Regions from separate parts of the Homo sapiens genome. Here region 1 is linked to region 2. The links come from fine-mapping of genetic effects on gene expression. Tissue or cell type: whole blood. Region 2 holds a variant in brackets; the other region holds the start of a gene. All regions are shown on one strand. Distances are between the middles of the regions.

What was found. PIP is the estimated chance that this variant, and not a neighbour inherited with it, causes the effect.
Region 1: SESN2 starts here. The variant in region 2 is fine-mapped to the expression of SESN2 in whole blood (TOPMed, PIP 0.93).

The regions. Positions count from the first base shown.
Region 1 is chr1:28,256,727-28,261,873 of GRCh38, forward strand. It overlaps SESN2 (sestrin 2), which reads left to right and starts at 2,792. Exons shown (of 10, transcript NM_031459.5): 1 at 2,792-3,211. The coding sequence starts at 3,122. RefSeq lists enhancers at 2,363-2,542, 2,535-3,383 and silencers at 2,653-2,862, 3,643-3,702.
Region 2 is chr1:28,304,110-28,309,256 of GRCh38, forward strand. No RefSeq gene overlaps it. Among named protein-coding and RNA genes, the nearest start is that of MED18, 22 kb to the right of the region's middle. The variant G/A (reference allele first, on the strand shown) is at 2,558.

The DNA of each region.
Region 1 (5,147 bases), 47 kb before region 2:
AGTTTGATTTTTTTTTTTTTTTTTTTTGAGACAGGGTTTCGCTCTGACACCCAGATCGTGCAGTGGCACGATCTCAGCTCACTGCAACCTCTGCCTCCCGGGTTCAAGCGATTCTCCTGCCTCAGCTTTTCGAGTAGTTGGGACTACAGGCGTGCACCACCACGCTTGGCTAATTTTTGTATATTTAGTAGAGATGGGGTTTCACGATGTTGGCCAGGATGATCTTGAACTCCTGACCTCAGGTGATCTGCCTGCCTTTGCCTCCCAAAGTGCTGGGATCACAGGCGTGAGCCACCATGCCCACCCAAGGAGTTTGATCTTAATTCTGTAGCTGATGAAATACCAGTGAAGCCTTTTGATCTGGACTTTGACATTACATAGTAAATTTTTTTTTTTTTTTGAGACAGAATCTCACTCTGTCACCCAGGCTAGAGTGCAGTGGCACGATCTCGGCTCACTGCAAGCTCTGCCTCCTGGGTTCACGCCATTCTCCTGCCTCAGCCTCCCAAGTAGCTGGGACTACAGGCACCCGCCACCACGCCTGGCTAATTTTTTGTATTTTTAGTAGAGACGGGGTTTCACCATGTTAGCCAGGATGGTCTTGATCTGACCTCGTGATCCGCCCACCTCGGCCTCCCAAAGTGCTGGGATTACAGGCGTGAGCCACCACGCCTGGCCACATAGTAAATTTTTTAAATGAAAGCTGAAGCTGACACAGGGTAGTTTAGAGAGGAAGTTGATGCAAAGGAAGATTCCGTGACCAAGGGCATATGATTGTCAGGACATTTTGCTAGGTGACATAGAGCAGGAGATGGATGTCAAGATGTAGACCCTGCCAGCCAGGCGCGGTGGCTCATGCCTATAATGCCAGCACTTTGGGAGGCTGAGGCGGGCAGAGCACAAGGTCAGGAGTTCGAGACCAGCCTGATCAACATGGTGAAACCCTGTCTCCACTAAAAATACAAAAATTAGCCGGGTGTGGTGGCACTTGCCTGTAATCCCAGCTACTCAGGAGGCTGAGGCAGGAGAATTGCTTGAACCTGGGAGGCAGAGGTTGCAGTGAGCCAAGATCGGGCCACTGCACTCCAGCCTGGGAGACAGAGTGCGACTCTGTTTAAAAAAAAAAAAAAAAAAAAAAAAAAGATGTTGACCCTGCCCTCAAGGAGTTTACAATTAAAAAGATCAGATAAGCCAGACTCAGTGGTGCACACCTGTAACCCCAGTGATTGATTTGGGGGGCTGAGGAGGGAATATCGCTTGAGCCCAGGAATTTGAAGCTGCAGCGTGCTATGATCATGCCACTGTACTCCAGTCTGGGTGACAGAGCTAGACCCCATCTCTAAAAAACAATACTAATAAAAAGAAAAAAGGGTCAGATAAAACATGTACATAGAAAATTACAATACAAGGCAGAATGTGGCTGGACATGGTGGCTCATGCCTATAATCCTAGCACTTTGGGAGGCTGAGGTGAGAGAATCGCTTGAGCTCAGGAGTTTGAGACCAGCCTGGGCAACATATTGAGACCCTGTCTCTATTTACTAAAAAACAAAAAACAAAAACAAAAAAACAGAAAACAAAAAAACAAAAAACAAAAAAAACTAGGTAGAATGTGATACATGTGAAAAGAGATCCAGCTCAAGTGCCTTGGGAGCTCAGGGGAGGGTGAGATTAATCTCTTTTTCCCAAGAATCTGGAGGCAGGAAACCAAGTCGGTTTCATCTTTGGAATTGTAAGCTTAGACTTAGAAGTCTCAGAGGGGGACTTGGGGGTCTTATCCACCCTCACCCCTGGCAGGATTCCCTGTCTAGAATAAACAATAACTTTAAAATGGAAACAAAAAAAGGAGCTCTGAAGGAAAACTGTGAAGGAAGAGGCTCCGTTTGAAATGAATAGAAAATGAATTTAGCTTGGAGGTGCTGAGGTGTTGGTAGAGGCAACTTTCTGGCAAGAGGCGAGTTGAAGGCCAGGAAGTGAATGAGATCAGGGAGAGTGTCTGGAGGGAAGAGGGGCAAAAACAAACTGGGGAAGCACCCACGTTTTAGGAAGTGGGTGGTGAAAGAGGAGTCAGAGAAGGCCAGAGGGAGAGGTGAGCAAAGATCCAGCAGAACACCTTGTTACAAAGTTTCGAGGAGGGTGGGAGGGGTGGAAGCCAGGACGGGTAGCAGAAGGAAGAAAACTTCCAGCAATAGGGATTGAGGTTCCACACGAAGTTACCAATGACATTTCAAGGAATGAAGGCTTTTCCTGAGGCTCCACAAATAAGGTGAATTCCCTGTGTCTCGCATCTTTGGAGCTTCCCCGAGGCCAGGGGGAGCAGGGTTGTGCCCTCTGACCTCTAAATATCTGGGGTTCAGTTCTATAATTAGCAGCACCGGATAGGACGCGAGCCAAACCTCTCTTAACCCTAGCCAGTCCCTCCAGGAACTGAAAAGATGAAGAATTCATTTAGGAGATTTCACACTCGGCTGTTTGGCCTAGCCCAGTGAAGTCCCTTTTCATCACGCAACCCTAATGACTCTTAGGGCTGTCACTGCCGTCTGGTGTTGCCAGGGATCTGACTAAACCGTCTTGCAAAAGTTTGCAGCATTCACCCGAGGCGGACTACAACTCCCAGAATTCCGGGCGCTCCCCGGTGCTGATTGGCGGAGCCCGTGACTCCAGGGGGCGGAGTTTCCCCCGCCTCCCCGGGGAAACAGACCTCTGATTGGCTGGACCGCCGGGCTTTTGTGTCCCCGCCCTCCCCCGGGGACCGCAGCGGGCTGAACTGCTGGTGTCAGAGCCCGGCGAGCGCTGGCAGTTCCGCGGCGGGGATGCTGAGGAGCGCTGGGTCCGGGAGCAGCCCTGGCCCCTGCGGACTTCCGAGGCCGTGAAAACCCCTGCGCTGCGGCCCTTCCCAGGCCCCCGAGGCCGTTCGCCGTTCCCGAAGCCCGACTGGGGGAAGAGTCCAGCACCAAAGCGGCCGTTCTCGGATTCCGGAGCGTTCTGGAGCCCCGAGAGACGCCCCGGGGTTCTAGAAGCTCCCCGGCGGCGCCCAGTCCCGGCTTCATTCGGGCGTCCCTCCGAAACCCACTCGGGTGCACGGGTCGTCGGCGAGCCGCGACCGGGTCCTGGCGCGCACCATGATCGTGGCGGACTCCGAGTGCCGCGCAGAGCTCAAGGACTACCTGCGGTTCGCCCCGGGCGGCGTCGGCGACTCGGGCCCCGGAGAGGTAAGCGGCGGCCGCGCGACGCCCCTCTTCCCTGGAACCCCGAACCGCGTCTGAGCCTCAGGCTGTCCGGAGCTGAGTCGGTGTGTCCTGGGCTCGGGGAGGGAAAGCCGAGCGCGTAACCCGGGACCCGGGTTGCATCAACTGGCAGCCGCGGCCCTCGGCACCCCTCCCCCACTCTGTCTCCCCTCTCCCTCCTTCTCCCCCTCCCTCTCCCCCTCCTCCCTCCCTCTCCCCCTCTCCCTCACCGCCCCACCCCAGGGCCGCGGATCCTTCCTCGGCTCCCTCGGACTCCTGGCCAATGAGGGAGAAGCCTTCTGGAGGCTCTCCGAGCTTTGGGCTCCTGAGCGTCTTCAAGTCCAGGCAAATCCCGGCCGGAGCGGCCAGACCACTCCTCCTCCCCGCCCCCTTCCGCGGAGTCCCTTCCTCTTCGCGGGGGCCGGCGGGCAGAGGACCCTTCCTGGGGTGCCTCCCGGCTCCTGTCCCCCAGCGCGGGGCGTAGGCACCTGGGACTGGCCAGTGAAAGTCGACCTCATCCTATGTCCACCGCACTCCTGCTTTGGAGGGAGAGCGCAGGGGCTCTGGGGGCTTGGCGGGCCGCCCGGTACGCGGCGGCGGCAGCCAAAGCTGGGGGGAGAGGGGACAACCCTGGTCGCGGCTTCCGAAGCCAAGCGCGGGTTAGGCTGCGCCCTGCTAAGTAAGTGGTCTGAAGGCCCAGAAGTTTGTTTTCCAGAAATTCCTCCCCCACCCTCCCTTCGCGCCGCTCCCCTCCACCCCCCCGCATTCGCATCCCGGCATAGCCCGCAGGGGCTTTGCAGGGAGACCGGGAATTAGGCTGGACCTAACCAGACTGACAGTTCGCACTCCCCCACCACTACCAGCAGCAGCGATAATGGACATCTTATCATTTATTATGCACCTACTAGATACCAGGCTCTGAGTTTTTTTCGCCTTTAACCTAAGTCCTCAGGACTAAACCAGCAATACAAGCTACGCTATAGCCCCATTTTACAGGAAGAACATTGAGGCCCACGATGGGCTCAGAAAGAGGCTTTCTTCATTAACCCCACTGAATATCTTGTTCTTTGGCCTTATGATTTCGGAGATTGCACGGCACTAGGAGCTTCTAGTTGCTTTAGTTTACAGGCCTAGAGTGTGGTGGAAGTTGTATTCTGGACCTGGGATTTGGTGGAGTGCTATGACCCCAGGAAAATCCCTGCTTTTCTCTTAGTAACGTGGTTTCTGGGGATCCTACCTCCGTCGGTGTATAGTTTGTGCCCTGGTTTTTGTTAGCTTGCTTACCCTTCTCTGCCGTGATTTAGGAGCGCCATGTGGAGGAATGGCTCTTCTCCTGCAGCTTCTCAGCTGTGTGACTTCTTTGGAAAGATGGAAATAATGTTACTATTGAGAACACCTGAACACTAGAGAGCAAGAGTGCTGGGTTCATGTCCCAGCCCTCCTGCTAACTTGCAGTGTGTGGCTTAGCCAGTAATCACTTCTCTGATCTGTGGTTTCTTCCCATGGGGATTTTACAGTATCTCTAAGGGATTGTTGGGAGAATTAACTCAGAATACAAGCAAAAGCTGAAGCACTGTGACTGGAACATAGTAACTGCGTGATACTTGCTTGCTATTATCAGAACGTGGCCATGGCACGCACAGCTTTCTCCAGAGTGTCTCACAAGGGGGTGCCTGAGCCTGTTCCTGAGATCAGACACTGTACACCCCTCTCTGGGTCAGTGCCTGGTCTAGGGAGAAAAGGCTTTGAGGGAGGGATCTTTACACAGAAGCCATGTTTCCTCAGTGGAGAAAACTGCTGCTATCTGGGAGGTTTCTTTTTCTTATCTTTTTTTTTTTTTTTTTTTGAGATGGAGTCTTGCTCTGTTGCCCAGGCTGGAGTGCAGTGGCACGATCTCAGCTCACTGCAACCTCCATCTCCC
Region 2 (5,147 bases):
AAGCATTTTATATACATAATATCACTTATTTCTTATTTCTCACAACAAATCTATAAGACAAGTAAAAACTAAGGGACAGGGAGGAAAAGCAACTTACTCCAGGACACACAGCATGTTTTAAGCATAGGGTCTAGGATTTTTTCCTAATTAAACTTTTAATTTTGAGATAATTATAGCTTCACATGCAGCTATAAGAAATAATATAGGCCAGGCAAGGTGGCTCACGCCTGTAATCCCAGCACTTTGGGAGGCTGAGGTGGGCTCATTTGAGCCCAGGAGTCATAGACCAGCCTGGGCAGCATAGGGAGACTCCATCTCTACAAAAAATGTTTTAAAATGAGCCAGGAGTGGTGGCACGCGCCTGTGTTCTTAGCTACTTGGGAGGGTGAGGTGGGAGGATAGCTTGAGCCCAGGAGGCCGGGGCTGCAGTGAGCCATGATTGTGCCACTGCACTCCAGCTTCGGTGACAGAATAAGACCCTGTTTCAAAAAAGGAAGGAAGGAAGGAAGGGAGGGAGGGAGGGAGGGAGGGAACAAAGAGATCCTGTGTACTCTTTACCTAGTTTCCCCCGATGGTAACTTCTTGAAAAAATACAACACAGTATCACAACCAAGATATTCACATTGATACAGTCAAGACACAGAGTATTTCCAACACTACCAGGATTCCTCATATTGACCTTTCAATAGCCAACCCCACTTCCTCCTGCCTCTACCTCCTCCTTTACACTGGTAATTCTGTCTCCATTTTTATAATTTTGTCATTTCAAGAATTTTATATAAATAAATCATACAGTGTTTAATCTTTTGAGACTGGCTTTTTTTCACTCATCATGATTCTCTGGAAATTCATCCAGATTGTTCCAAGTATTCATATTTGTTCTCTCTCTTTTTTTTTTTTTTTTTTTTGAGACAGGGTCTGGCTTTGTCACCCAGGCTGGAGTGCAGTAGCGCAATCAGAGCTCACTGGCATCACCGACCTCTCTGCCTCAAGTGATCCTGCCACTTCAGCCTCCCGAGTAGCTGGGACTACAGGTGTGTGCCACCATGCCCAGCTAATTTTTGTAATTTTTTGTACAAGTGGAGTCTCCCTGTGTTGCTCAGGCTGGCCTTGAGCTCCTGGGCTCAAGTGATCCTCCCACCTCAGCCTCCCAAAGTGTTGAGATTACAGGCATGAGCCACAATGCCCGGCCTCGTTTCTTTTTATTTCTGGGTAATACTCCATGCTGAGTGGTATTCTGTGGATGTACCATGGTTTGTTTAACCATCCACCTATTGAAGAACATCTGGATTGTTTCCAGTTTGGGGATACTACCAATAAAACTGCTTTAAACATTCAACTACAGGTTTTTGTCTTAATGTAAGTCTTCATTTCTCTGGGATAAATGCTCAGGATTGCAATTGCCAGGTTGTATGGTAGCTGTGTGATTCTTTTTTTTTTTTTTTTTTTTTTTTTTGAGATGGAGTTTTACTTTTGTCGCCCAGGCTGGAGTGCAATGGCAGGATCTTGGGTCACTGCAACCTCCTTCTCCTGGGTTCAAGCGATTCTTCTGCCTCAGCCTCCTGAGTAGCTGGGATTACAGGCTCCCACCACCACTCCCAGCTAATTTTTGTATTTTTACTAGAGATGGGGTTTCACCATGTTGGCCAGGCTGGTCTCAAACTCCTGACCTCAGGTGATCCACCTCCCTCAGCCTCCCAAAGTGCTGGGATTACAGGCACAAGCCACTGTACCCGCCTATGCGGTTCATTTTTTAAGAAACTGACAGGCTAGCCACGGTGGCTCACGCCTGTAATCCCAGCACTTTGGGAGGCCGAGGCAGGTGGATCACCTGAGGTCAGGAGTTCAAGACCAGCCTGGCCAACATGGTGAAACCCCGTCTCTACTAAAAATACAAACGTTAGCCGGGCATGGTGGTGAACGCCTGTAATCCCAGCTACTCAGGAGGCTGAGGCAGGAGAATCACTTGAACCTGGGAAGCACAGGTTGCGGTGAGCCAAGATTCCGCCACTGCACTCCAGTCTGGGCGATAGAGCGAGACTCTGTCTTAAAAAAGAAAAAGAAAAAGAAACTGACAAAGTTTTCCAGAGTGCAGGGCCCAGGATTTTAATCACACTATTCTACTGCTTATAAATTAACCTATAAAATCTTTTATTTTTAAAAGAATAAAAAGAAATTTTCTTCCTGTTATGGCTGTGATGAACTTTAGTAAGCATACAGTAAACAAAACAAAACAAAACAAAACAAAAAAAAAAACAGCAATATAAGTTATTTTTTATTTTAAAAACTCTTCACAGGACACTTACACATTGAAATACATACAGCCAAGGGCTGCTGAGCTGTTGGCCTTCCGGAAGCTTAAGCACTTCATCTTTTCTCTGGCATGTGGTCTCTGTGGGTCCTCAGATGCCAGGATCACATGTTCGCTGCTCACTGAGCTCTTAGGAAGCCCCTGTGCTACCCTGTAGGCAGAAATTATCCTTTTTGAATCAGGTAAGTAACAGAAACCTCCTCAGCTTTAAGCTAGAAAGGGAACTCTCTTTCTGAAGGTACAGGA[G/A]GTGCAGCTGACCCATGCAAAGGACTGGAGTTAGGAAATGGAGAGTTCTGCAGATCCAATCAGCCAGCCCAGGGGGCCAGTCCCATGGTGCAAGTGTAGTTGCAGGCAAACAAAATAAGATCTTGGGCTCAGGAGTCCAACAACTTGAGTTGAAATCCTGGTTCTACCACTTACAAGCCATGTGACCCTAGGCAAGTTACTTAACCTCTCAGACCCCAGTTTCCTTATCTTAAAATGGGGTAATAAGCCTGGGCAACATAGTGAGACTTTGTGTCTCTCTAAAAAAAAAAAAAAATTTAGCCAGGCATGGTGGCACCCACCTATGGTCCCAGCTACTTGGGAGGCGGAGGTGAGAGGAACACTTGAGCCAGGGAGCTTGAGGCTGCAGTGAACCATGATTGCACCACTGCGCCCCACCAGGGTGACAGAGCAAGACCCTGTCTAAAATAAAATAAAATAAAATAAATAAAATAAAATAGAATGGGGTAATAATTGCATCTACAGTATTAGGTTCATATGGAGATTAATGAGTTGATGCATATAAAAAATGCTTTAAAGGAGTCAGGCAGGCCGGGCGCAGTGGCTCATGCCTGTAATCCCAGCACTTTGGGAGGCCGAGGCGGGCGGATCACCTGAGGTCGGAAGTTCGAGACCAGCCTGACCAACATGGAGAAACCCCGTCTCTACTAAAAATATAAAATTAGCTGGGCATGGTGGTGCATGCCTGTAATCCAAGCTACTCAGGAAGCCGAGAGAGGAGAATCGCTTCAACCCAGGAGGCAGAGGTGGCGGTGAGCCAAGATCGCGCGCCATTGTACTCCAGCCTGGGCAACAAGAGGGAAACTACGTCCCAAAAAAAAAAAAAGAGAGAGAGAGAGAAAAAAGGCCGGGCGCAGTGGCTCACGCCTGTAATCCCAGCACTTTGGGAGGCCAAGGCGGGCGAATCACAAGGTCAGGAGATCGAGACCATCCTGGCTAACACGGTGAACCCCCGTCTCTACTAAAAAAAAATACACAAAAATTAGCCGGGCGTGGACTCCATCTCAAAAAAAAAAAAAAAAATAGGCAGAGTGGCTCATGCCTGTAATTCCAGGTACTTGGTAGGCTGAGGCAGGAGGATCCCTTGAGCCCAGGATCAAGTACGAAGTGAGCTATGATTGTGCCACTGCATTCCAGCCTGGGTGACAGAGCAAGACCATTTCTCTTTTTTTTTCTTTTTTTTTCTTTTTGAGACGGAGTCTCTCTGTCGCCCAGGCTGGAGTGTGCAGTGGCGCAATCTCGGCTCACTGCAAGCTCCGCCTCCCGGGTTCACAGCATTCTCCTGCCTCAGCCTCCCGAGTAGCTGGGATTACAGGCGCCCGCCACCACGCCCGGCTAATCTTTTGTATTTTTTTAGTAGAGACGGGGTTTCACCATGTTAGCCAGAATGGTCTGGATCTCCTGACCTCGTGATCCGCCCGCCTCAGCCTCCGAAAGTGCTGGGATTACAGGCTTGAGCCACCGCGCCTGGCTGACCCTTTCTCGAAAAAAACAAAACAAAAAAACAAGTTCCTGGCTGGGCGCAGTGGCTCAAGCTTTTAATCCCAGCACTTTGGGAAGCCAAGGCAGGCGGCGGATCACCTGAGGTCAGAAGTTCAAGACCAGCCTGACCAACATGAAGAAACCCCGTTTCTACTACAAAAATAGAAAATTTTCCCGGCGTGGTGGCGCCTGCCTGTAATCCCAGCTACTCTGGAGGCTGAGGCAGGAGAATCACTTGAACCCAGGAGGCGGAGGTTGTGGCAAGCCGAGATTGTGCCACTGCACTCCAGCCTGGGCAACAAGAGTGAAACTCCGTCTTAAAAAAAAAAAAAAGTTCCTGTCATGTAGCAAGTGCTAATGCTAGGTATACAGTATTATTATTATTCCAGGATTAAATGAGAAGGCACATAAATTGCAGCACAGTAATGGCAAGTGTTCAGTATACATTAGCTAAATGTTAGCTTTCAGTATTTTTGAACAGCTTTATTGAGATATAGTTCATATACTATACAAATGCACATTTCATTGCTTCTTAGAATGTTGAGTTGTGCAACTGTCACCACAATCAACTTTAGAACATTTTGATTACCCTCAAAATAACCCCTGTGCCACTTAGCCATCACTCCCCCACCCCTTACATCCCTCCAGCCCTAGGCAACCACTGATATACTTTCTGTTCCTATAGATCTGCCTATTCTGGACATTTCATATGCCTCATTCCTTTTTATTGTTGAATAATATTCCATATGTGGATATACCACAAGTATTAATTTTTATAATCAATAATCCATGCAGTGGCTGAACATGGTGGCTCACGCCTGTGATCCCAGCACTCTGGGAGGCTGAGGCCAGTGGATCACAAGGTCAGGAGTTCGAGACCAGCCTGGCCAATATGGTGAAACCCTGTCTCTACTGAAAAATACAAAAAATTAACCGGGTGTGGTGGCACATGCCTGTAGTCCCAGCTACTTGGGAGGCTGAGGCAAGAGAATGGCGTGAACCCAGGAGGCAGAGCTTGCAGTGAGCCGAGATCGCGCCACTGCACTCCAGCCTGGGTGACACAGCGAGA